2 separate regions of the Homo sapiens genome follow, and region 2 is reported to be linked to region 1. The links are microRNA targets in miRTarBase. Many come from high-throughput screens and were not tested one by one. Region 1 holds a microRNA gene; the other region holds the end of a gene's coding sequence.
The links. Region 1 holds the annotated microRNA hsa-miR-628-5p (AUGCUGACAUAUUUACUAGAGG, at 1,003-1,024, opposite strand). A microRNA usually pairs through its seed, bases 2 to 8, with sites in the 3' UTR of a target mRNA and lowers its output. Matches are read on the target gene's strand: a 7mer-m8 pairs with bases 2 to 8, a 7mer-A1 pairs with bases 2 to 7 and ends in A, and an 8mer does both.

Region 2: miRTarBase lists SEMA3D as a target of hsa-miR-628-5p. Seed matches in the 3' UTR shown: 7mer-A1 at 3,496-3,502.

What each region holds. Positions count from the first base shown.
Region 1 is chr15:55,371,989-55,374,988 of GRCh38, forward strand. MIR628 (microRNA 628) reads right to left here and starts at 1,046; the gene lies at 952-1,046. It overlaps CCPG1 (cell cycle progression 1), which reads right to left. Exons shown (of 9, transcript NM_001204450.2): 6 at 1-56. It overlaps DNAAF4-CCPG1 (DNAAF4-CCPG1 readthrough (NMD candidate)), which reads right to left. Exons shown (of 16, transcript NR_037923.1): 13 at 1-56.
Region 2 is chr7:84,996,627-85,000,162 of GRCh38, reverse strand. It overlaps SEMA3D (semaphorin 3D), which reads left to right. Exons shown (of 19, transcript NM_001384900.1): 19 at 298-3,536. The coding sequence ends at 723. Among named protein-coding and RNA genes, the nearest start is that of SEMA3D, 190 kb to the left of the region's middle. RefSeq lists an enhancer at 1-716.

The sequences.
Region 1 (3,000 bases):
CTGATTACTGGTTTCATCACTACTTGATTCATCGTCACTAGGCTGAGATGAAAATACTATTAAGAAAAAAGTTGACATTTAGCTATTCAAAATCTTGGAAAAGCTTTCCCAGTAAAAATTATTTAGAATAATCAATGCCATCCCTTACATGCCTTTCTACATAAGATAGCCAAAAACAAAAACCAAACAACATAAACAAAAACACGGGTTTTCAACTCATCAACATAAAGCCAAAACATAAAGCATTTCAAATGTGATACACAAGAATCTGTTAATCATACTATTTGGTGCTTTGAGAGCCTATCTCTGTTTTTTTATTTAATCCTCCTCGCCTTATAGTTTACACTCTTAGAACAATCCTTCATTCGCATAGCCTCAAGTTTCATTGCTGGCCAGGAGCAGTGGCTCACGCCTGTAATCCCAGCACTTTGGGAGGCCGAGGCGGGCAGATCACCTGAGGTCAGGAGTTCGAGATCAGCCTGGCCAACATGGCGAAACCCCTTCTCTACTAAAAATACAAAAATTAGCCGGGCATGGTAGTGCACCTATAGTCCCAGCTACTTGGGAGGCTGAGGCAGGAGAATCACTTGAACCTGGGAGGTGGAGGTTGCAGTGAGCTGAGATCCTGCCACTATACTCCAGACTGGGAGACAGAGCAAAACTCTGTCTCAAAAGAAACAAAATTTCATTGCTATTACAGGTATAAACAAGTATTATTTCTGGAAAGAAAAAAAATACTCTCTGTCTCTTCATTCAGTTTCAAAGAGGTAATTTAAGTGCAACTATTTAAGGAACACAGGAAAGTACACAAGCATTTCCTGTGACTTATAAAGTAAAATAACTACCAAAAGTTTCCTTGGGTGTATCTGGTCTCTAGTTTCATTTCCAACCTAATTAGCCCATGATCAAGGTTCAAAGCACTGTATTTTAACATAGGTTTCCAGAAGTCAGATGAGCCCTTCCCTTCGACTGCCACTCTTACTAGAAGGTTATTAATTTTACCCTCTAGTAAATATGTCAGCATGAGGAAGTGACACAACAGCTATCTCCGATATTAAGGACTATTCTGGTGCTGCTCCTTTATGAAAATAATAGTAGAGAAAAACAAACTAGTGGGGAAAATTTGCACAAGAAATCCCAAGTCCAGGAAACAAATTCCCTGGAAAAAATCACCTTCAGTTTTTTCCAAATGCATAATTTCTTAACACTGTTTCTTATGTCAACAAACTATTATGTTGACACAGAAGCTTCAATTACTCAGAAATAATTTCCACAAGCTACTTAGAGGAAAAGCACTAAAAATAAGGATAAAATATGAACTCGAATACAAAGAGCTCTAAAACAACAAACATTCATGCTCCAGAAAAGCAAAAACAGTTCTTCAGAAGACAGGATATCCATGCCACAGGAAAGCTGGTGATTTAGGTTAGGCAATATTTTTCAGAGATGGATCATGGAGTATTCAGTTCACTTTCACACTTACAACAATAAACACAAAGACAGAAGGCACTACTGAAATGAATGAATATTCCTAATATTTAGTGATACAGATGCCACTGAGAGATCTTTTTGGTCATGACCCTTATGCCCATCATGTTTATCTGGTTATTCTTGATCACTAGTTTTTCAAAGATGCCGTCGCCTCAGGTGTGAGATTATATTTCTTGGACAAAGAGAAAGAAAGGAAGACTTAAACAAAGCATTACATAATACAAAGGCATTCATGATCATGGTTAGAGTATTTAAGTCAGGCTTTCTGACATAAAATTAAGATAGGTAAATGTAAAAACAAACCATTTGTAAAACTTATTTAAATAATTGTTCAATTCTACATTAACATTACCTTCATTATATATTCTAACAAAACAGCCTAACCCACATTAATATATTCATGTCCTTATCTAATGCTTCCAACTTTTTTAACCCATACATATAATAGCTGAAATATTTTGATTTTTAACTTCTTTTAAAAAAGCTTAATTTGGCCCATAGATGCAAGCAATGCAAAGGCATGCAATAAGCTTGGCCAGCTCCTTTACAAGAGATTCTGAACACCTGTTTAGAGTATTGCGGATGACAACAGGTATCTTTAAAGCACTCGGTAAATAGTAAATGTGACTAGGCACACTCAGCTCTAGAGAAGCTGGTCAGATTTAGTCACACCACCTTGGAAAGCGAGTTGGCTAGGAACATGGTGTTTCAGCTGATCATCCCATCCCCATATGCACTCAGGAATCTTCCACAGCTTCTCCCACCACCTTTCTTTTGTGAATAAACAGGAAAAAAAGAGGCATAAAGCTATATTATAAAGACTAAAAAGAAAAAAAAGAATTAAAAATACTTAATTATCACTTAACATTGTTATCCGTACAAAATTAAAACGTAATAACCATGCCTTCTTAAAAACACACAATACAAACTTCTCTACACTACCAACTTTGCTTTTTGTCAGGGAAGAGAGTTCATAAAGAGGAAGCAGGCAGTGTTCTTAACCCAACAAAACGTACACTGCCACAAGAATATAAGTCAGGAGAAGAAAAAATTGAAGTTGAAATCCTTAAGGATGAAGAAAGGGAAAGGAAAAAACAAAATTAAGCAATGGCTAGCACAAAATTAACAAACTAAAAGGGAAAAACAAAAACCATCTTTTTTATTTTTTTGAGACGGGGTCTCCCTCTATTGCCCAGGCTGGAGTGCAGTGGCGCAATCTTGGCTCACTGCAACCTCCGCCTCCTGGGTTCAAGAGATTCTCCTGCCTCAGCCTCCAGAGTAGCTGGGATTACAGGCCTGCGCTACCACAGGCAGCTAATCCCAAGTAGCTGGGATTACAGGCACCTGGCTAAATTTTGTATTTTCAGTAGAGAAGGGTTTTTGCCGTGTTGGTCAGGCTGGTCTCAAACTCCTTACCTCAGGTAATCTGCCTGCCTCAGTCTCCCAAAGTGCAGGGATTACAGGCATGAGCCAAAGTGCCCGGCCCCAAAACAAAAACTTTTGGCAACT
Region 2 (3,536 bases), not on the chromosome of region 1:
AGTTTTTCATTCCTATCTGCATATTGAGAGAAAAAAAATAACTGCATTCCAAAGGTTCAGTTAGACTTACTAAGATTCAAATGTGAAAAATTAAGGATATAGTTTGGGGGCTATTACTTTTGTTGAATTTTTTTACTCTTTTTAACTATGGCTGACAATATTATGCTTGATGACAGAGACAGAGAGACAATGAATATGTCTTTCATATTCATCTAAGTAAAACTATGTAGCCTGTTTTCATTTGCTCTTAGCTCTCTCTGTGTTTAATTTATTACCTACATTTTTCCAATTCTGCAGTTGAAGCCCGATGAAAGAATCATCAAAACGGAATATGGGCTACTGATTCGAAGTTTGCAGAAGAAGGATTCTGGGATGTATTACTGCAAAGCCCAGGAGCACACTTTCATCCACACCATAGTGAAGCTGACTTTGAATGTCATTGAGAATGAACAGATGGAAAATACCCAGAGGGCAGAGCATGAGGAGGGGAAGGTCAAGGATCTATTGGCTGAGTCACGGTTGAGATACAAAGACTACATCCAAATCCTTAGCAGCCCAAACTTCAGCCTCGACCAGTACTGCGAACAGATGTGGCACAGGGAGAAGCGGAGACAGAGAAACAAGGGGGGCCCAAAGTGGAAGCACATGCAGGAAATGAAGAAGAAACGAAATCGAAGACATCACAGAGACCTGGATGAGCTCCCTAGAGCTGTAGCCACGTAGTTTTCTACTTAATTTAAAGAAAAGAATTCCTTACCTATAAAAACATTGCCTTCTGTTTTGTATATCCCTTATAGTAATTCATAAATGCTTCCCATGGAGTTTTGCTAAGGCACAAGACAATAATCTGAATAAGACAATATGTGATGAATATAAGAAAGGGCAAAAAATTCATTTGAACCAGTTTTCCAAGAACAAATCTTGCACAAGCAAAGTATAAGAATTATCCTAAAAATAGGGGGTTTACAGTTGTAAATGTTTTATGTTTTGAGTTTTGGAATTTATTGTCATGTAAATAGTTGAGCTAAGCAAGCCCCGAATTTGATAGTGTATAAGGTGCTTTATTCCCTCGAATGTCCATTAAGCATGGAATTTACCATGCAGTTGTGCTATGTTCTTATGAACAGATATATCATTCCTATTGAGAACCAGCTACCTTGTGGTAGGGAATAAGAGGTCAGACACAAATTAAGACAACTCCCATTATCAACAGGAACTTTCTCAGTGAGCCATTCACTCCTGGAGAATGGTATAGGAATTTGGAGAGGTGCATTATTTCTTTCTGGCCACTGGGGTTAAATTTAGTGTACTACAACATTGATTTACTGAAGGGCACTAATGTTTCCCCCAGGATTTCTATTGACTAGTCAGGAGTAACAGGTTCACAGAGAGAAGTTGGTGCTTAGTTATGTGTTTTTTAGAGTATATACTAAGCTCTACAGGGACAGAATGCTTAATAAATACTTTAATAAGATATGGGAAAATATTTTAATAAAACAAGGAAAACATAATGATGTATAATGCATCCTGATGGGAAGGCATGCAGATGGGATTTGTTAGAAGACAGAAGGAAAGACAGCCATAAATTCTGGCTTTGGGGAAAACTCATATCCCCATGAAAAGGAAGAACAATCACAAATAAAGTGAGAGTAATGTAATGGAGCTCTTTTCACTAGGGTATAAGTAGCTGCCAATTTGTAATTCATCTGTTAAAAAAAATCTAGATTATAACAAACTGCTAGCAAAATCTGAGGAAACATAAATTCTTCTGAAGAATCATAGGAAGAGTAGACATTTTATTTATAACCAATGATATTTCAGTATATATTTTCTCTCTTTTAAAAAATATTTATCATACTCTGTATATTATTTCTTTTTACTGCCTTTATTCTCTCCTGTATATTGGATTTTGTGATTATATTTGAGTGAATAGGAGAAAACAATATATAACACACAGAGAATTAAGAAAATGACATTTCTGGGGAGTGGGGATATATATTTGTTGAATAACAGAACGAGTGTAAAATTTTAACAACGGAAAGGGTTAAATTAACTCTTTGACATCTTCACTCAACCTTTTCTCATTGCTGAGTTAATCTGTTGTAATTGTAGTATTGTTTTTGTAATTTAACAATAAATAAGCCTGCTACATGTAAAAAGAACCAAACTCACAATATTAACATAAACATCTTTCATATTTTGTTAGTACTTTCAAATGTTTTCAATTTGACTTTCCCTCTGAATATGCATGGTGTGTTTCCTGTCTGTTTAAGCAGAACTCACCTTTCCTTCTTGTAACACAGAACCCTTAGCCTTCTTCTGTTTTGCCTTTTCACGCCCTTTATAGTGTGAAATGAAAAATTAGTCACTTCCTCACATGGAAGGCAGCTTTTCAGAAAATAACAGACATTGCTCGTTTCTCATGCATTCTACATATCTTGAAAGAAAAGTCTGTGAGAAAACCCTGTGATTAGAGGGCAACTTAATGCAAGATCTGTGGCTCTATGTTGAGAGCATTCTCTCTCTGTTATTTTTATTTTATTTGCATTGCTTACCTATCTCAAAGTAGTCAAACTGATATATGAGATTGAGTACTCCCTTTTGATATTATACTGATGAATATTTGTAGGTGTTTCACTATAAGGAACAGCTAAGGAATAATTTTAATAAAAGTGAACCAGAACAAATCACTCATTTAAAAAGTAATTCAGAAGAACAGTGTGGCATGATCAGACTTCTAATTGAATAGCGTAACAACAGTGTTTGTAATTATAGATTTGCTTGGACAAAATATTCCAGGAACTCATAGCGAGCTCAAAGCAATTAAGTGGGAACATTTTTAATTTAAAAAAAATTTCCAAATATTTGTGGGTCCGACAGTAATGATCAAAATATGAATGACTTTGGAAAATTTACATGAAGCTCAAGTGTTAGGATTGACTTATGAAAATAAATTTTATTTCTATCCAAATTTGAATGTCCAAACCATTTTTTAGTTACTTCTTTCTAATCCTAGTTATTCAGACAAAATTTGGAAACTTATTTTATGACCACATCTAATATTCTGGCTGCTTTGGATACAATACTCTTGATTTATGATAATTAGTTAAAATATATTAAAAATATTATTAGTAAAATAAAATTTCACACAATAAAAAACAACATAGAGTACACATATTTATATGTATTTTTAAAGATAAAGAATATCTAAAATGTGTTTTTTTCTTAGCTTTTTAGTTGTCTAGAACATTTAGAGAAAGAGTATGAATATATTAAATCCACAAACACACTATATACTTCCTCACCACTGACTATTTTATCAAATTTGCCTTAAAATAATGAAAAAGAAAAGTATAGTTAATGGTTTCAAATATGCTAAGAAATTGACTCTGCGGAGGGGATCTTAAAATGCCTGTTTACTCATGTTTTCGTATTTTTCTTGTCTCTAATACTTTTGTCTTTGTCTGCCTTGTGTGTTCTTTTCTGAATTTCATTTCAGCAATTTATGCTGCTAAATAGAATCCCGCATGTCTGCA